Linked DNA regions of Homo sapiens: region 1 is linked to region 2. A link means that fine-mapping ties the variant in region 2 to the expression of a gene that starts in the linked region. Tissue or cell type: whole blood. Region 2 holds a variant in brackets; the other region holds the start of a gene. All regions are shown on one strand. Distances are from middle to middle.

Region 1 (10,537 bases), 33 kb before region 2:
AATTCAACAACGCTTCATGCTAAAAACTCTCAATAAATTAGGTATTGATGGGACGTATCTCAAAATAATAAGAGCTATTTATGACAAACCCACAGCCAATATCATACTGAATGGGCAAAAACTGGAAGCATTCCCTTTGAAAACTGGCACAAGACAGGGATGACCTCTCTCACTACTCCTATTCAACATAGTGTTGGAAGTTCTGGCCAGGGCAATTAGGCAGGAGAAGGAAATAAAGGGTATTCAATTAGGAAAAGAGGAAGTCAAATTGTCCCTGTTTGCAGATGACATGATTGTATATCTAGAAAACCCCATTGTCTCAGACCAAAAACTCCTTAAGCTGATAGGCAACTTCAGCAAAGTCTCAGGATACAAAATCAATGTGCAAAAATCACAAGCATTCTTATACACCAATAACAGACAAACACAGAGCCAAATCATGAGTGAATTCCCATTCACAATTGCTTCAAAGAGAATAAAATACCTAGGAATACAACTTACAAGGGATGTGAAGGACCTCTTCAAGGAGAACTACAAACCACTGCTCAAGGAAATAAAAGAGGATACAAACAAATGGAAGAACATTCCATGCTTATGAGTAGGAAGAATCAATATCGTGAAAATCGCCATATTGCTCAAGGTAATTTATAGATTCAACGCCATCCCCATCAAGCTACCAATGACTTTCTTCACAGAATTGGAAAAAACTACTTTAAAGTTCATATGGAACCAAAAAAGAGCCCACATTGCCAAGTCAATCCTAAGCCAAAAGACAAAGCTGGAGGCATCACGCTACCTGACTTCAAACTATACTACAAGGCTACATTAACCAAAACAGCATGGTACTTGTACCAAAACAGAGATATAGACCAATGGAACAGAACAGAGCCCTCAGAAATAATGCCACATATCTACAACCATCTGATCTTTGACAAACCTGACCAAAACAAGCAATGGGGAAAGGATTCCCTATTTAATAAATGGTGCTGGGAAAACTGGCTAGCCATATGTAGAAAGCTGAAACTGGATCCCTTCCTTAGCCCTTACACAAAAATTAATTCAAGATGGATTAAAGACTTAAATGTTAGACCTAAAACCATAAAAACCCTAGAAGAAAACCTAGGCAATACCATTCAGGACATAGGCGAGGGCAAGGACTTCATGTCTAAAACACCAAAAGCAATAGCAACAAAAGCCAAAATTGACAAATGGGATCTAATTAAACTAAAGAGCTTCTGCACAGCAAAAGAAACTACCATCAGAGTGAACAGGCAACCTACAGAATGGGAGAAAATGTTTGCAATCTACTCATCTGACAAAGGGCTAATATCCAGAATCTACAATGAACTCAAACAAACTTCCAAGGAAAAAACAAACAACCCCATCAATCAGTGGGCGAAGGATATGAACAGACACTTCTGAAAAGAAGACATTTATACAGCCAAAAGACACATGAAAAAATGCTCATCACTGGCCATCAGAGAAATGCAAATCAAAACCACAATGAGATACCATCTCACACCAGTTAGAATAGCGATCATTAAAAAGTCAGGAAACAACAGGTGCTGGAGAGGATGTGGAGAAATAGGAACACTTTTACATTGTTGGTGGGACTGTAAACTAGCTCAACCATTGTGGAAGTCAGTGTGGCGATTCCTCAAGGATCTAGAAGTAGAAATACCATTTGACCCAGCCATCCCATTACTGGGTATATACCCAAAGGATTATAAAACATGTTGCTATAAAGACACATGCACACGTATGTTTATTGCAGCACTATTTACAGTAGCAAAGACTTGGAACCAACCCAAATGTCCAACAATGATAGACTGGATTAAGAAAATGTGGCACATATACACCATGGAATACTATGCAGCCATAAAAAATGATGAGTTCATGTCCTTTGCAGTGACATGGATGAAGCTGGAAACCATCATTCTCAGCAAACTATCGCAAGGACAAAAAACCAAACACTGCATGTTCTCACTCATAGGTGAGAATTGAGCAATGAGAACTCATGGACACAGGAAGGGGAACTTCACACACCAGGGCCTGTTTTGGGGTGGGAGGAGGGGGGAGGGATAGCATGAGGAGATATACCTAATGTTAAATGACAAGTTAATGGGTGCAGCACACCAACATGGCACATGTATACATATGTAACAAACCTGCACGTTGTGCACATGTACCCTAAAACTTAAAGTATAATAAAAAGAAAAAAAAAAAAAGAAAATCTTCTTTTCTATAACTACAGGAGTTCTTATCCTGGCTGCACAAGAGTAACTTGCAGAGCTTCAAACTGTGGGATGCCTGTGACCCACCTGCTTGAGACTGATTAAGTGGTCTAGAGTGAGGCACAGTCCCCATTTTTGGAGCTCCCCAGACGAGTCAAACGTGCTGCCAGGGTTGAAGCTCACTCTGCCTAGCAAAGGATGGTGCGTAACATTTGCTCTGAGATAAGACTGGGCATGGTGGTTCACACCTGTAACCCCAGGACTTTGGGAGGCCCAGGTGAGAGGATCATCTGAGCTGAGGAGTTTGAGACCAGCCTGGGCAACATAGTGAGACTTGTCACTACTAAGGGAAGAAAAAAAAATTAGTCCAGCATGGTGGCACAGGTCCCAGCTACTCGGTAGGCTGAGGCAGGAGGATCACTTAAGCTTGGGAAATAGAGGCTGCAGTGAGCCATGATCACACCACTGTACTCCAGCCTGGGTAAAAGAGCAAGACCCTGTCTCAAAAAAAAAAAAGTTAGAAATAAAAATAAATAGAAAACATTTGCTCTGAGACTGATGACAAATAAAAATTATTTTTAATCTATTCACCTAACTTCATGTAACCACTACTGGGTGTCTACACAGCTGAACTAAAGCACAACTTCTGATGACAGAAAACAAGATTTTCCAGGTAAAACAGTTTTGCTTTGATTTTTGGTGAACCCCAAAGCTTTGTTTTTTGCCAAGCCATTAAAAAAAAAAAAAAAAAAAAAAGGAAAGGGCCAGGTGGGGTGTGGCTCACGCCAGTAATCCCAGCACTTTGGGAGGCAGAGGCTGCCAGATGGCCTGAGCCCAGGAGCAGTAGTTCCAGACCTGCCTGAGCAACATGGGGAAAGTGTCTCTACAAAAAAATACAGAAGGCCGGGTGCAGTGGCTCACACCTATAATCCCAGCACTTTGGGAGGCCAAGGCAGGTGGATTGCTTCAGCCCTGGAGTTCGAGACCAGCCTGGACAACATGGCGAAACCCCGTCTCTACTAAAAACACAAAAATCAGCCGGGTGTGGTGGCGTACACCTGAAATCCCAGCTACTCAGGAGGCTGAGGCAAGAGAATCACTTGAACCTGGGAGGTGGAGGCTGCAGTGAGCGAAGATCGCGCCACTGCACTGCAGCCTGGACGACATAGAGAGACTCCGTCTCAAAAAAAAAAAAAAAAAAAAGTTGGCTGGGGCGGTGGCTCAGGCCTGTAAGAGGCAGAAGCGGGTGGGTCACTTGAGGTCAGGAATTCGAGACCAGCCTGACCAACAATGGTGAAACCCAGTCTCTACTAAAAAAATTAAAAATTAGCCGGGTGTGTTGGCACACACCTGTAATCCCAGCTACTCCGGAGGCTGAGGCAGGAGAATGGCTTGAACTGGGAGGCAGAGGTTGCAGTGAGCCAGGATCGCCCCATTGCACTCCAGCCTGGACAACAAGAGTGAAACTCCGTCTGAAACTTTAAAAAATGGACTAACCTCCTAATACAACACAAACACAAGCACCATACAACTGTAAATGATTTACGATCATTTACAATGAGTAAGATATTACTCCTACCCTTGAAAAGCTCGTAGGAGGTTTAAGTTGAATTTAGGTGAACGTGAAAATTTTCTGACCACTGAATTTGAAGATGAAGATACACTATGTACTTTTCGGACAAAATGTGATGACTTTAAGATTTCTTGTCACTAAATTGGGGATGGGGGCTTACTAACTTTAAATTATTTAAGTACTTCAGACAAAAACTAATAACTTCATATCTCTCACAAAGCAAACATTCTGTCTATACACAGAATTTACTAGAACCTGTGAGGAAACTGTAATCATTATCATTTCCGTTTTACAGAATAAGGCAATCAGAACAACTGACTTTCCTAACATCACAGACCTAGATCAGAATTCAGAACTCTGTGTCCAATCTTAGGTCCCTTCCAATATTACAACCTGCAAACTAATCAAACCGGCATCTGTTTTTACATTTCTTTAAAAAAAGCAAAGCAATTAAAAAAAGGACCCAATTCTGCTCAGAGACGAATATGTATTTCTTAATTTGGATCTAACTTTATAACATGGTGATCAACCCAAGTACACTGTACTCGACTCCGAAAATCCTGCTCGTCACTTTATATTTTGAGTCCTACTAGAGACTTTGATGAATTGCACTCAAGAAGACGCGGCCCCCACTACGCAGTGGCTACGGGAGATGGCTTCCAGGGCAACTGTTCTCCAAGTTCATTTCTGAGCGCCGGGTAACCATGGCCAGTAATTAATCCAATTCTAAGCGTTGCTATCAATTCTACGCGTTGCTATCAATTCTACTGATTTCCCTGATCGACCAGAGTCTTCCCATTGCAGGAGCTTTTGTCACAACTTAGGCTTTACCTGTACAACCGTCATCTCCACAGAGGAGCGACAAGCCTTTATGCAATATGGACACCAAGAAAACCGCCTTCGAAGACACGCAAGGCAAAATTCTTGCCAGTGTCCGGAAATACCCGTCTCTGGAACCCAAAAGTCAAACTAAAATTAAAAGTTCGGCTTAGCAACACCGCGAAAGGCGATGTAGGCGTCCACCTGGAGTTTAGCTGCCTCAACCTCCGCCCCGGCCTGCCGGGTCTCTGGGGACCCCGTCTTCCTCCAGCGGGCTCTGGGATGCGGCCCGCTCACCTCTGACCCTGGCCGGATCTCGCGCGTCTAAGCCACCGCGTTGCCAGTCGCTGGCCACCCACCTACCGCCACCGCCCACCTGTGCGGGTCGCCTCGCCGCTAGGCCCCAAGACGGCGCCGCCTGCTCGGCAGCAAAGCCCACCCGCCCCGTCGGCGGCTCAGTGCTGCACCCCCACCAACAGCCAGTTCCGGCGGCCGCACTTCCGATTGGCAGGCTGGGCCGAGGGGCGGGGAAGGCGGGCGGAAGGGGAGGAGCCGGGAGGGCGGGGCCGCTGCCAGGAGCCTGGAGCGCTGCGTTCCGCGCAGGACGCCGGTGAGGCCCGCAGAGACTTGCGTCCGGGCGGGAGGCGGGGCCCAGGATCTCTGCTCAATCCTGGAGTCCGAGTCCGCAAAGTGGGAGGGAGGGTGTAGATGTGAATTTGGGGAAAAACGACCCTGTTGAATTTCTAGAGTGGAAGAAACATAGAACTAGCTTTTCTCTTTGCTTAGCACATACAAATGGAAAAACAGCGACACCGTTACCTACATTTACTAGTCCAATGCGTACAACCTTCTGTAGTATATCAACTGCCAATGAGTTTATGTTTTTAAAAAAACCACCCCAGAGAAGGGTTCTAAAAATTCAGAAACCGCATTACTAGCACACATTGTAAGGTCTGTTTTGTTTTGTTTGTTCGTTTGTTTTTCAGACAGAGTCTCGCTCTGTCGCCCAGGCTGGAGTGGAGTGGAGAAATCTCAGCTAACTGCAACCTTTGCCTCCTGGGTTCAAGCGATTCTCCCTGCCTCAGTCTCCGGAGTAGCTGGGATTATAGGCGTGCACCACCACACCCGGCTAATTTTTGTATTTTTAGTAGAGACTGTTTCACTATGTTGGGCAGGCTGCTCTTGAACTCCTCATCTCAAGTGATCCACCCGCCTTGGCCTCCCAAAGTGCTGGGATTACAGGCGTGAGCCATCATGCACGGCCTGGGGTGAATCTTTTTAATGAGCATTTATTATTTGCCGTTCACAATGCCAAGGGTCATAATGAATGAAAGTGTCTTGGAATTAGAGTTAGTGGTTGCACACATTATAAGTGTATTAAAGTACACTCCAAAATAAAATCCGAACACATTAAGTGGTTACTCCCATTCCTCCCTCTCTCAGCCCCTGGCAAATGCCAATCAGCTTTCAAACTGTGGTACCTATTACGGATATTTCATATAAATGGAATGTGTGACCTTTTGGTCTGTCTTCGTAGCATAATCTTTTGCAGGTTCACCTTGTACACCTTGTTGCATGTATCGGTACTTCATGTCTCTTTATGGCTACTATTCCACTGTACCTAGATGCCACAGTTTTACCTGTCCATCCACTGATGGACATTTGGGTTGTTTCCACTTTCGGGCTATTGTGAATAGCAATGATATGAACATTTGTATACAAGTATTTGTTCGAGTCCCTGTTTTCAATTCTTTTGGGTATAAACATAGTGGAACTTCTGGGTCTTATAGTAATTCTACGTGAAAATATTTGAGGAACCCATAAACAAATGTTTCTACAGCAGCTGAACCATTCATTTTACATACCAAGAGCATTGTCGGGGGATTCCAATTTCTCCACATCCTCACTAACACCATAATTTTCTATTCCTTTGATAGTAACCATCCCAAAGGGTATAAAGTGGTATTTTATTGTGGGTTTGATTTGCATTCCCTAATGGCTAGTTATCTTGAGCATCTTTTCATGCCCTTGTTAGCCATTTGTATATCTTCTTTGGAGAACTCTCTATTCAGGTATTTCCCCATTTTTAAATTGAGTTGTTTGTGTTTTTGTTGTTAGTTATGTGTAGTCATATATTCTGGATATTAGACCCTTATGAGATATATCATTGGTGGATACTTTCTCCCATTCTGTAGGTTGTCTTTTCACTTTCTTTGTAATATCCTTCAGTGTACAAACCTTTTTAATTTTGATGAAATCTAATTTATCTATTTTGTTACTTGTGCTTTTGGTGTCATCACCAAGAATCCATTGTGCAAGCACACTAGCTTTCATGTCTCTTCTTATGAGTAACTAATTCTATTGGATAAGGGCCCCACCTTTATGATCTTCTTAAACCTTAATTACCTCCTTATAGATCTTATCTCCAATACAGTGACATTGGGGTTTGGGGTTACATATATGAATTTTGTGGAGATATAATTTGGTCAACAGACTTCTGTACCCCTGCAATTCATGTCCTTATTGAATACAAAATACATTCATACCACTTCAACAGTCTCAAAAGCATCAACTCTAAAATCTGAAGTCCGAAGTCTCTTCTAAATATCACCTAAAACAGATAAGGGTGAGACTTGAGATATGATTCATCCTGATGCAAATTTTCTCCCCAGCTATGAAACTGTAAAACCAGGGAAGTTGTTTGCTTCCAAAATACAATGGCAGAACAGGCATAGAATAGGCATTCCAAACAAACAAACAAACAAAAATAGGAGCAAGAAAGGAAGGAAATAAAAGAAATAGGCAAAAAGGAAGGGATGACAGGTCCCAAGCAAGTCCAAAAATCTAGCAAGGCAAATTCTAGTAGATTTTAAGGCTCAAGAATAATCCATTTTGATTCAGTGCCCTGCCTTCCAGACCTACAAGGGTGGTGGCCCTGCCTTCTGGACCCTAGGTGGATGCTATACCTCTCCCCACACTCTGCCAGGCATGCTCTTCCAGGCAGAGTCTCATCCCAAAAGTTTTGCTAGGTAATGGCCTTGATAACATCTGAATTGCTTTGAGGTCATTCTCCCCTTTTCTTAAAGAATAGCACAAGTTTGGCCAGGTGCGGTGGCTCACGCCTGTACTCCCAACACTTTGGGAGGCCAAGGTGGGCAGATCACGAGGTCAGGAGTTTGAGACCAGCCTGGACAACATAGTGAAACCCCATCTCTACTAAATATACAAAAATTAGCCTGGCCTGGTGGTGCATGCCTATAATCTCAGCTACTTGGGAGGCTGAGGAAGGAGAATCACTTGAACCTGGGAGGTGAAAGTTGCAGTGAGCTGAGATCCCGCCATTGCACTCTAGCCTGGGCAATGGAGTGAGAATCTGTCTCAAAAAAAAAAAAAAAAAGGAATAGTACAAAGTTAGCAGCTGGATAGCTCTATTGTCCTGTCCTGTAGAATCTAGGACATGTAAAAGCCTTCTGTCATTTTTGTCTTGTCTGCATCCCCTTCAGTTGAAACAGGCAGTGTTTCTGCTCATATAATCTCATCATTTATTTATCAAATGATAGTCTAACCATACCTTTGGTGTTTTCTTTAGAATGTACTTTCTCATTTTCTGCAACATGACAGGCAGATAATTTTCCAAATATTTGAGTCTTGGTTCCTTTTTGCTTAATAATTTCTTCTTTCATTCATCTCTTCTTGCATTTTACTATAAGCATTCAGGAAGATCCAGGTCGCACTTTCAGCATTTTGCTTAAAAATCTCAGTTAAATATTCAATTTTATCATTCACAAATTCTGTCTGCCAGAAAACACTAGAAAACAAGTCAGCCAAGTTATTTGCTACTTTATAACAAGGACTGCCTTTCTTCTGTCTTCCAGTGACCCATTCTTCATTTCCATCTGAGACCTCACAAGAATGGCCTTTAACAAACATATATTTACCAAAATTGTGTTCATGATTATGTTTTCTCTAAGAAGATGGAGGCTTTCTCTTCAACTGTATTTCTGAGTTCTTACCAGAATTGCCTTTAACATCCATATTTCTAGCATGGAAATCTAGGCTTTTTCTAGCATGCACCTCAGAATTCTTTCAGCCTCTACCCATTACCTAGTTCCAAAACCACTTTCACATGTTTAGGTTTTATTAAAGCAACATGCAACTTCTTGGTAGCAAAATCTATCTTAGTTTGCTCAAGCCGCCATAACAAAATACCATAAACTGAATGGCCTAAGCGACAGAAATTTATTTCTCATAGTTCTAGAGGCTGTGCAGTCCAAGATCAAGGTGCTTGCCAATTTGGTTTCTGGTGAGGGCTCTTTTACTGGCGAGTAGATAGCCACCTTCTTTCTGCATTCTCATATGATAAAGGAAGCGGGAGAAGGAAAGGGAAACAGACAGAGAAACACACAGAGAAAGATATCTGGTCGTTTTTGTTGTTTTTTTTTTTTATAAAGATACTAATCTATAGCATCAGAACTCCACTCTTGTGATCAATTTAACCTCAGTTACCTTCTTATATAGGTCCCATCTCCAAATACAGTGACACTGGGGGTTTGAGCTTCAATATGTGAATTTTGAGGGGACATATTTAGTTCTTAGCAAATGCTATTATAAATGAAATTGTTTTTAATTTTCCAGATTGGTGATTGCTGATGTATAGAAACACAATTGATTTTGGGGTATTCTCTTAGTCTATTTTCTGCTGCTGTAACAGAATACTACAGACTGGGTAACATATAATAAACAGAAGTTTATTGGCTCACGGTTCTGGATGCTGAAGATTCTAAGATTGAAGGGCTAGCATCTGGTGAGAGCCTACTTGGTATGTATGTTATCCCATGGTGGAAGGACAAAGAGAGGGCTAGAGAGCAAGGGATCAAACTTGAAGCCTCAAGTTCTTTTACAATTGGCATTAATCTATTCATGAGGGTGAGACCTCATGACCTAAACAACTTACATTAGGCCTTACCACCCAACATTGTTGCATTATGGGTTAAGTTTCTAGCACGTCCTTTGGGGGGATATATTCAAACCATAGCAAGTGTTGGCCTTGTACTCTGAACATTTACTTATTAGCTCTATTAATTTTGTATGTGTGCCTACATGTGTATATTCTTTAGGATTTCTATATATAGAATCATGTAATCTGTGAACTGAGATAGTTATACTTTTTTTCTCCCAATTTGAACACTTTCATTTCTTTTCCTTGGTTAATTGCTCTGACCAGAGCCATCCCTTCATTTTAAATATTTTGCTCACGTGATTATGGAAGCTGGCAAGTCTGAAATCTGTTGGGCAGCTGAGTAGGCTGGAATCTCAGGCAAGAGTTGATGCTGCAGTCTTGAGGCAGAATTTCTTTTTCTCTGAGTAATCTCAGATTTTGCTCTTACAGCCTTCAGCTAATTGAATAAGTTCCACCCACATTATCAAGATTAGTCTCCTTTACCTAAAGTCAACTGATTATAGATATTAAATGTATCTTCAAAATACCTTCACAGCAAGACCTAGATTAATGTTTGATTGTGTACTGTAGCCTAGAAAAATTGACATGTAAAATTAACCATCACATTCAATGTGGTAGATAGTAGTGTTAGTTCACAGGATTTTAAAACATTTTTATTTCTCACTCTCCTTCCCATGGCTTCAGTGTGGGCACAGTATACTTCCTCATGGTGATTTTGCATGTGGCTATGTGACTCATTTTGGCCATTGGAATATGAACAGATCCACTAGCAGTTGAGGATAACTAGATGGGGTCTTAGAGAGAAGCAGAAGACATGTGTGTTCTGAATCCTCTGACTGTGTGTGTGTGTGTGTATGTGTGTGTGTGTGTGTGTGTGTGTGTGTGTGTGTGTTTGTAAGCAATGATACAGAGTCCAATTTGAAAGAGCTCCTACTGGCAAAAGAAGGGACA
Region 2 (10,537 bases):
TATATAATGATGGCGAAATATTTTTCCTTCCCCAAAAGTGACTGAGGAGTTGCTATGTGGAAATGGAGGCAAATTGGTCAGGTCTCTTTTCTTTACAAATGACAGAAGCATACCTTGAACCAGTTTAGGCAAAAGAAAAGAAATGATCAGTTCACATGAGTGGCAAGTCCAAGATTTACAGCATTAAGCATGTTTATCTCCAGGTGCTCAGATAATGCTGTCAAATATCTGCTTCTTTTTTTCTATTCTTGGCTCTCTTTGCGTTTTTGCTGGCTTCATGTCTCTGTCTTTTCAAATGATAGGGAAGAGGGTCCCAAGTATATTCAGACCTAAATTTTTCTTCTAACTCTTAAGTATTCTCTACAATTTCTGCATCCGCATCAGTCTCTCAAAAAACAAAAATAACTCTGATTAGTCTTGCGTGAGATATGAGTTTACTCTGAACCAATCAAGCACTCATTGAAACCTGGGAAATGGGAGGTCTGACTGGCAAGGCTGAATCTTTAGCAGTGAATGTAGGGAGGTCTGATGGTTGGAATTGCATGGAACAGAGAAAATAGGACTCCTGAAAGGAAGGATGTGAGGCTGAAATCAAGCACTGGCGTACTTAAAGTTATTGGTAGTGTAGAAACATGAAAAGCAAAAGTAACAAAATAACATTGATAACTGGGAGATGAGGAAGAAGAGGAATCTAATCAATGTTCATCAAGTCAAGAGGGATTTGGGAAATCTGTAAGGACTGAGCCAAAGCTGAAGGAAAGCAAAAGTCTATTTCAATCATTTCTCTAGACAATTCCCAGGAATCTCACGATAGACCAACAGTTCAGAGTGACAGTAAAGTTATTGACAGTTTTGATCTGTAGCCAAAAGACCTAAGCCTACCTCAGAGAAACAGGCATCTGGCTAATCTTCAAGGAGGACTTTGTCTTTGTTACGTATGGGTAGCACAGGCAGGTAAAGAGACAGTTCAAATAAGTAATAGTGATGCCGCAGATGTTTTAGTAGACACACATTTAGTTCTAGAAGGAGAGGAAAGAACTTGCAGTCACAGGTACCATGGCTTTGAGGGGTCAGAGAGTAAGAATATGGGTGAGTCCTGGCCCCAAGGCAGGGGTCATTTGCTTCCTCCCTCTCTGCCGGTTCTTTATTGCCACAGAGTTTCTGAACTTGCTCAACAGTTTCACAAACAGATTCCAGGTCCCTTCCCAGAACCACTTACCAAGTCAAGCTACCTGGGGAGGGACATGAGAAATCTGAATTTTTAGTTTTTTTTTTTTGAGACTGAGTCTTGTTCTGTGGCCCAGGCTGGAGTACAGTAGCATGATTTCGGCTCATTGCAATCTCTGCCTCCTGGTTCAAGGGATTCTCCTGCCTCAGCCTCCCGAGTAGCTGGGATTACAGAAGTGCACCACCATGACTGGCTAATTTTTGTATTAATTTTTGTATAAGCTCTGCTATTACAATATATTCCCTGGTCACCTTCCAGTTTTGTCCCCTCTGTCACATGAGAACAAACATTTCATTAAATACAAAGGCAGGAGGGAAAGTTATGTAATTTATTCTCTGAGTCCCTAGATCCCAATACAGTTCCAGAATTTCCAGCATTAAGTTTAGCAGAGTGCTTCTAAAGATTACTTCCTATTTTAGTTTTATAAATTGGAGGGCTGGATTCTTACAAGAAGGCTATATACAGCTACTGGACAAAAAGTATGTGGAGTCGAAAACGCAAGAGAAAAAATACTCTCATCTTGGGACTCAAAGCACCAAAGAGAAACCGTTTGGTGAAATTCTGGGCCAATTTGAAGCTATTCCTCCTTAAGGAGAAAATGGTGGATCTGGGCTTTCAACACAAAGGAATATTTGATATCCTATTGTGATGGTTAATTTTATGAGTCAGTTTGTATGGGCCATGGTGCCTATACAGTTGGTCAAAATTTATTCTGGATCTTTCCGTGAAGGTGTTTTTTGGATGAGATTAACATTTTAACTGTTGAACTTTGAGTAAAGCAGATAACCCTCCATAATGTGGGCGGGCCTCATCCAATCAGTTGAAGGCCTAAACAGAACAGAGATGCCCACCCCTCAGCAAGACGGAATTCTGCCAGCAGATGGCTTCTGGAATCAGACTGCTGCTCTTCCTTGGGTCTCCAGCCTGCAAGTTTACCCTCCAGATTTTGGACTTGCAAAGCTTCTGCAATTATGTGAGCCAATTCCTTAAAATTAAATCAATCTCTCTCTGTCTCTCTGTCTCTCTGTCTCTCTCTCTGTCTCTCTCTCTCTCTCTCTCTCTCTCTCTCTCTCTCTCTCTCTCTCTCTCTATATATATATATATATATATATATATATATATATACATCTCCTGTTAGTTCTGTTTCTCTGGAAACCCTGAATAATGCATTTATTGATGTACTAATTATTTCCGATTCTGATTGAATATTAGGCTTTGCAGCATCAAGATTAAACCTCAGGTCCTTAATTCTCTGCCTGTCCCCAGCTCTACTGAAACTCCACTTAATTGAGGACCAAACCCAATGATCTGTAGTATATGTGTCATGTCACCCTGGCACCTGTTTGTTGGGGGAAAGGCTTACAGGGTGCCTGTATAAACTGGCCATAAAAATATGGGACAATAAGTTGTGGAAAGCCACAAGAGGCCTCTGAGGAGGAAAGCCTTCTTATCGCCATTATGTTCCCATGCTCTGAGCGAGACTTGCTCTCTTATCCATAAACACTGTGTTCAAGGAGAAAGACACTCCTTTGAACATTGGAATGTGGCCAGACGTGCAGGATCCTAGTTAAGCCTGCTCCCACTAGCTACTCTCCGATAAATTAAAGATATGCTGTTTGAGCACAAAGGAGATTAATTTAAACCACCACTGTTATAGATTATGTGTATGATGCACTGTCTCCCTTTCACCGTTCCCTGAATGTCTGCTTCTTAGATCTAAGTGACTGTATTCAATAAATAGCGTGGAGACCAGAGCTTGGGGCCTTTTACAGCCTCCATTTTGCAATTGGCCCCCTGGTCCCCACTCTTTATGCACTCTTAACCTGTCTCTTCTCATTCCTCCATTGCCACCAGACTTTGGATACCCTATGGGTGGTGATGAGGCTGGTCCCCAACACCTGTTCTTCTTGATGTACTGTGGTATCCTGGTGGGCTGTGAAGGAGAAGCAGGTGTGTTCCCAGATAGTGAATCCCACAGTCCTCAGGGTGGTTGAGTGGGACCTGCACTGCTAGCACCTCTGGTGGTGACCACCAGCCAGGCAACACTGGCCAGAGTTCCTTCAGGACCCATCTAAGCAAGTGAAGGATGACCTATGGTCCCTGCAGATGCCAAATGGAATGAGCAGCAGCTAACATTGGTTGCTTCATCAAAGGGCACATTACTTCCTGGACATTACTTCAGCACCCAGTTGCAAAATGCACCCCTGCCACGTCAAGGACAGGGAGCCAGTGAAGGTGCTGGAGAAGTGTTGATGTGTCAGCTCAAGGTAAGACAGGTGGAGGTGGGAAGGCGGTGGGGAGGCAGGGTTGGGGCTCTGAGCAGGGGCAGGGCCAGGCAGTCATCCCAGTCTCTGTATTTGTGGCTGATTTGCTCTGTAGCAGCAGAACAGAGACACTGTGCTTACCATGGGAAAAAGGAAGAAGAGGGAACTTACCTTCTTTTCTCTTACATTCCACTGGTGAGAGTTGGCCCCTTGGGAGTTAACCTCTGCTCACTTCAGAGGAACATCAGCCAGCACTTTTAGGAGCTACCAGGGAAGCAAAATGCTACGCTTTGCTTTGTGGTGGTTCTTCCAAGTCTGGAAATGGTAGAAGGAGCCAGAACTTCAAGGTGGGAAGAGACAGCCAAGCAAGATTCTGGGTGGAGTAGGCAGCTTCTGAAATCTGAAATGGTTCACAGTGGTCCCCACCTCCTGGGTTTTTGTTGTTGTTGTTGAGATGGAGTCTCACTCTGTTGTCTCGGCTCACTGCAACCTCCGCCTCCCAGATTCAATGAATTCTCCTGCCTCAGCCCCCTGAGCAGCTGGGATTGCAGGCATGTGTCACCGTGACAGGCTAATTTTCATATTTTTAGTAGAGACGGGGTTTCACCATGTTGGCCAGGCTGGTCTGGAACTCCTGACTTCAAGTGATCTGCCTGCCCCGGCCTCCCAAAGTGCTGGGATTACAGGCATGAGCCACCAAGCCCAGCCCTCATCTCCTGTTCTTTATGTCCTTGTGTGATCCCTTCTTCAGTGTGGGCTAGTTCTAGTGATATACTACTAATGAAGACAATACTGAAAAAGTGATGGGCTGTCCCTTCTGAGATTAGGTTTAAAAGACTGTGACTTCATCTCATTGGCACACATACTCCTTTGGCTTCTCTGATGAAGCCACCTGCCACATTGTGGGATGCTCTACAGGGAAGCCCATGTGGCAGGAAGCTAAGAGAGGCCTCTGGCTAACAGCTCTGAGGAACTGAATACTGTTAACAGTGATATGCATAAGCTTTCTCTCTTCCTCAGTTTAGCCTTGTATGACGTAGTTCCAACTGACACATTAAATGCAGCCTGATGAGTGACCCAAAGCCAGAGAAAACAGCCCAGATTGCTGACCACAGATACTCTGAGATAAAAAAGCTACTATCTGTGCAGTACTAATACAAATACTAATATTACCTGTGTTTGTACTAATACAAGCAACTCATCAACTGCAGGCACAGGATAATAGGAGATCCCGGTGGAGTTGGAAGGCTGTGGTGGCAGGAGTGGCTGCAGGGGAAGGGGCGAACACCTGAGAGCCTACTGCTGGCCCTGAGAGTCTCTGACAAGGTGCATAAGACCTGTGTGCTGTATCAGCCAAGTCCCACATTCTCAGAGGCCTCACAGCATGGTAGAAAGATAATATACTCTGTGGTCAGAAAGAAATGAGTTTAGCTCTGTCTGAGGTGATCGGGTCAAGTTGCTTAAACTATTTGAATCATTTGAATCTCAGTTTTCTTCTCCGTGAAGTGGGAATAATACCTCCTATTTAGAGGATTGGTTGAGCTACACATGTAGCAATACTCCTGACATACAGGGGCTTATAACACGTGGTCTTTATTTTGATGATTGTAGATTGTCGTCTTTGGTAAGCTTGAACAATTTATCTTGCTGAAACTCTTTCCAATAGACATTTACTTGACTTGATGCTTCTGAGACAACACCCTTTTTTCTTCTCCTATCTTTCTGGCTACCCCTTTTTCTTTTGGTGGCTTTTATTTTTCCTAACTACACTTTTATTGTTTGTTTTCTTCAAGAATCCATAATGGGGCTCCTTTTCTTCCTCTTCATATGCTTCCTGAGCAATCTTATCTCTGGGGGAATCATTTTTTTCCCTCTCCCAAGTCCCTGCTGGTCATAAAATGGGAACATACACCCCCAACACTTTCACCCATTTAGAAGCACCCATTTGGGAGGAGTAATATTTCATCCTTCTCCACATCTCTAACCTATCTTATATCCAGGAGGGGGAGTGACTTAACTTTTTGGTGAGATTGGAACAAAGGGTTCACTATATAACCCTAGCCTATGGTTTGCTAGAGTTCTTTCTCTCTCTCTCTCAGCTGGGCATTATCCAGCTATTTTGTTGAATTGAGCAGATAAGTTCAAAGTTGTTTAAAATTAAAGAACTATAGAGTCTGAATAAACATTGTTGACACAAATGCTTTAAGAATTCAAAGTGTAAGGCT[G/T]GTATTTACTATTTCATTTCAGGTAAGGAAGATTAAATACAGTTTTATTTTTAATCTCCCAAGGTTATAACCTATAATATTAAGACTATGTTAACCTTAAGTCTTATTCAAGTGTTTGTTGTAGGAAATTGTGTCAGCTCACTAAAGTTATACATTTTATTTGTCATAGGAAATTGAATTTACGCACCAACCTTTTGATAATTAACCCATGACTATGACTTCATTGATCTTACTAAAATTGACCTTACCTACATTTAAACTCTGCGCATTCTCTTTAGATAGGAAACTATCTCAAGCCCTTAGTTTAGATTTTTCTTCTTGCTGATTGTATACTTAAAATAAAATACCAAGTCTCACATTTTTACACTTCCAAATGAGGTCCCAGTCTACTCTTTCCAACAATAAGGGATATATTCAGATTCTTATTTGACTTTTTTCATATTTCTTGATTGATTCTGAATCTAGAGAGGAAGGATATAACAAACCGGTCCTTTTGAACCGTAATAAAAGCCAGGTATTCACTGGGGATTTGCTTTCATTGTAACATGCCACTTGGTGGTCAGCTTTTCGAGAAGGGAGGAGATAACGCCACTTAATTCTAGCACAGGCAGCTAATGACATTTCCGAAAAGACCCTGCGTTTCTCAAAGGGCTGAATTGGCTTTAGCCTTATCAGTCTATGTAGCCTTATTAATGCTTGTAATTTTGGTCCTGTTAAACCCTTGATTGCTTACTATATTGAGATTGTGAACTTGGGGATCATATTTTCTCATACACCACTTTGCTGTTACACTTGCACTTTTCTCTGTTTATAATACTCAGCTCTTAAATGCCACGTAGCCCATGGCTCAGTATTTTCTGCTCAAATGCTGGCTCCTCGAGGCTTCGTTTCCTGACCCTTCCTCTCCCCTGCATTTCAAAGCTTGATTTAGTGCTTCATCTGAGCTTGTTTCTCCTGGGATATGTATCTATGGAGCTCATGACAGTGTTGTCATTAAAACATACACAGATTCTTTCTGTTTTTGCTAAATAGATTATGAGTTCCTTGGGTGCAGAGATCATGGTTTTCATTTATGTAACTTTAGTGCTTAGTATCCTGTCAATGAATGTTTACTAAAAATAAATAAAATAAACAAACTCTGTTAAGTATAGTGACCAATTGTTCTAGCTGTGGACTAGTACCAACTTTTAACTTTATACTAACATAATTATTAACAGTACCCCCTTTCACTCTCAAAAGTGTTCCAGTTTGGAGGATAAATTCTAGGTCACCTTCTTCATAAGGAATCTTGGGGGAGATATAGAACTGAATTGCTTTTTTTTTTTTTTTTTTGCCTCTAAGAGGATAATGTTCTCAGATTTTCTGGAAAGCAGAGACAATGATTCTTATAAATTATAATAACAAAAATATCTCAATGATAATTTTCTTACCTACAAAATGAAACTAGCTAATGGTTTCACAGATTTCTGTGAGAATAAGTGTATTAGTTCACTATGGCTGCCACAACAAAATACCACAGTCTGTGTTGTTTAAACAACAGGCTTTATTTTCTCACAGTTCTGTAGGCTGGAAGTCCAAGATCAAGTTGTCTGCAGGTTTGGTTTTTCGAGGCCTCTCTGGAGGCTCGCAGATGGCTGCCTTCTTGCTACGTCCTCACATGGCCTTTTCTCTGTGTGCACATCGTGGTGTCTCTTCCTCTTTTTGTAAAGACACTAGTTATACTTAATTAAAGTCCTGCTCTTATAACCTCATTGAACCTTCATTACCTCCTTTAAAGTCCCTTATCTCCAAATACAGTCACATTGGGGGTTGAGAAGTCAACATACAATTTTGGGGAACACAATTCAGTCCATAATATGCATGTATAAATATATGGTGTGTGAATTTTAATATCCACACCTACCAACCCATATATAAAAAGTCATTTTGAAAATAACATGATGAGGACCTTTCTGTTTTGGACAGAATAATATAAATGGGTGGTAGAAGAGTTTTTTTTTGAGATGCAGTCTCGCTCTGTCGCCCAGGCTGGAGTGCACTGGCATGATCTTGGCTCACTGCAACCTCCACCTTCTGGGTTCAAGTGATTCTCCTGCCTCAGCCTTCCAAGTACCTGGGATTACAGGCACGTGCCACCACGCCTGGTTAATTTTTGTATTTTTCATGGAGATGGGGTTTCACCATGTTGGCCAGGTTGGTCTTGAACTCCTGACTTCAAGTGATCTGCCTTCCTTGGCCTCCCAAAGTGCTGGGATTGCAGGCATGAGCCACTAGGCCCGACCCTTTTTATTCAATCTCATATTATCAGATTATTTTGTTTGAGCTTTAAAAACAAATTTATTACTCTATAACAGATAATAATAATTTATTCATTTAAAATAATACATACAACTTCTAGGCTGGGCACAGTGCCTCACACCTGTAATCCCAGCACTTTGGGAGGCTGAGGTGGGTGGATCATTTGAGGCCAGGACTGTGCATGGCTGTTGTTCTCCATGCTTAAGAGGCCATAGTTGTGGCAGAACCTCGTCTCTACTAAAAATACAAAAAATTAGCTGGGTGTGGTGGTGGGCCCCTGTAATCCCAGTTACTTGGGAGGCTGAGGCAGGAGTATCACTTGAACTGGGGAGGCAGAGGTTGCAGTGAGTCAAAATCGGCCACTGCACTCCAGCCTGGGCGACAGAGTGAGACTTCATCTCAAAATAAAATAAAAAACAAAACAAAACAAAACAAAACAAAACAAAAAAATAAGAAACCATACAACTTCTAGACCTTGTCAAGAGAAGTCCTTGTCAGGGTACCATGCTTCAGAGGCCTGCTAGACCCCTTTATTCTGTGGGGTTAGGAGTCCATAGGCCAAAAGGACATGTGGGTGCCTAGATCTCTGGGATTTCTGCTCAAACATTCTCAAGCTGTATCTGGGACCTCTTTGGGCCTCCTTTGAGTCTCCATCCTCCTGAGTATGGTCTGTACCACTGGTAGTGTAGCACAGGCAATTGTTGCTTAAGAAGAAGAGTTCTGCTTCCCTCCTAACTACCATATTCTGGTGTGGAACTGCAAGGGATCCTAGGTAATTATGAGGCTATATAATAGATACAATAATAAATAGAACCTATTTTAGTTGATGGTTTGACTTGATTTTTTACCTTTCAAATATTTAAATCTATGCTGTATGAGTCTTCATTTGTATTCTTGCTCCAGGCTCCACACATATCAGGAGTGAACTTTTTATTTTTTTGAGATGGAGTCTCGCTCTGTAGCCCAGGCTGGAGTGCAGTGGCACCATCTCAGCTTACTGCAGCCTCCACCTCCTGGGTTCAAGCAATTCTCCTGCCTCAGCCTCTCGAGTAACTGGGATTACAGGCATGCCCCACCATGCCTGGCTAATTTTTGTATTTTTAGTACAGATGCGGTTTCGCCATGTTGTCCAGGCTGGATTTGAACTCCTGACCTCAAGTGATCTGTCCACCTTGGCTTCCCAAAGTGCTGGGGTTACAGGCGTGAGCCACCCTGCATGGCCTGGGGTGAAACTTTTTAATGAGCATTTATTGTTTGCCATTCACAATGCAGAGTGTCATTTATCATTTGATCTACACAACAGATAATTGGTAGGTCCTATTGCTGACCTCAGTTTACAGAAATGAAACTGTGGCCAAAGTCAACCCTGCTCAAAGAAGCAGAGTTGGGCCTGGAATGGAGCTCTGACCTCAGAGACTGAACTTAGCCCCTCTCCCCTACTCTAGGGCCATTCAAAGAGTGATAGTAATTTTCATTCGTTTTGAAGGACATAAAACATGAACTCATTGACCACAAATAGTCAGTTTGTCTGAAGATAATAATCGTCTGGGAATCTGCAACAAATTGTCCAGATTCCAAAATTTGCATTTTCAGACATAAGACTTATAAAAACTGCATGCATTATTCTGTGACTAGTTCTGCCTTAAGTGGTGTAACTGCACAACGGAAAGAGTGGGTAATCTTGTTCAAATGAAAGTTTCTTCAAATAATGGAGCAAATGACTTGCAGGAACCTACATGAAACTGAAAAGAAGTAGCTCCCTATCACTTATCAAGGAGCGTTGAAAGGTATGGGGGCAGGTAGTTTTTCCGCTCATCTTGAAATGAAATGATAATGGTCGAGAATTCCACCAACACATACGTATTTTTGCTCCTCTTTTTTTTGAATGTACACTACTGGCAGGCAGGATTCACAGTGTGTCTTTAAGTGCAGAACATTAGAACACATCTTTACCTACACATATACTAGAACTGTTGTCTAATTTAGAACAGAGTGTTCTTCCTTTGCTCCTTATTGGGCCCTAGTAGAAACTTCACAGGTCTGTAAGCAAGGTCATTTAGTGCCTTGCTTTTTTGCCCATCATGTTTATGTTTGTTCCCGATAAGACTGTTTTGTAATTCGGAGAATGACATCTTTTTTGTTCTTCACATGACCACGAATGTCCCAAGCTCCTGATGATTTGTAAACCACAAGATATAGCAGCTGAAATGTATTAGTTTAATAATAAACATAAACACAGGGAACAGGCTGATGTTATAAAACAGTAATTATGCAAATTTCTCACAGTAAATAGTGGTCTTAATGATGGCAAGGTTTCAGTCCCAGATGCTTTTCCAATTTACTTACTTCAAGAACTTCTTTGTATGTAATTTAAGAATTCCAACTTATTTCCAGGATACTTCGGTCCCTTTAAAAATTTTCTGCTTGCCCCTTTTACTTTAGCTTTCACAGTATTGCTGAGTAGCTACCCAAGCAAAGCAGGGGGACATCTTGAATCAGAGGTGGAATCCGCAATGAAAGGA

Evidence for each region. PIP is the estimated chance that this variant, and not a neighbour inherited with it, causes the effect.
Region 1: it holds the start of SUPT20H, and the variant in region 2 is fine-mapped to the expression of SUPT20H in whole blood (INTERVAL, PIP 0.97).

Annotation. Positions count from the first base shown.
Region 1 is chr13:37,054,557-37,065,093 of GRCh38, forward strand. It overlaps SUPT20H (SPT20 homolog, SAGA complex component), which reads right to left and starts at 5,132. Exons shown (of 26, transcript NM_001014286.3): 1 at 5,003-5,132. RefSeq lists a silencer at 5,044-5,303.
Region 2 is chr13:37,087,654-37,098,190 of GRCh38, forward strand. No RefSeq gene overlaps it. Among named protein-coding and RNA genes, the nearest start is that of CSNK1A1L, 13 kb to the right of the region's middle. The variant G/T (reference allele first, on the strand shown) is at 5,718.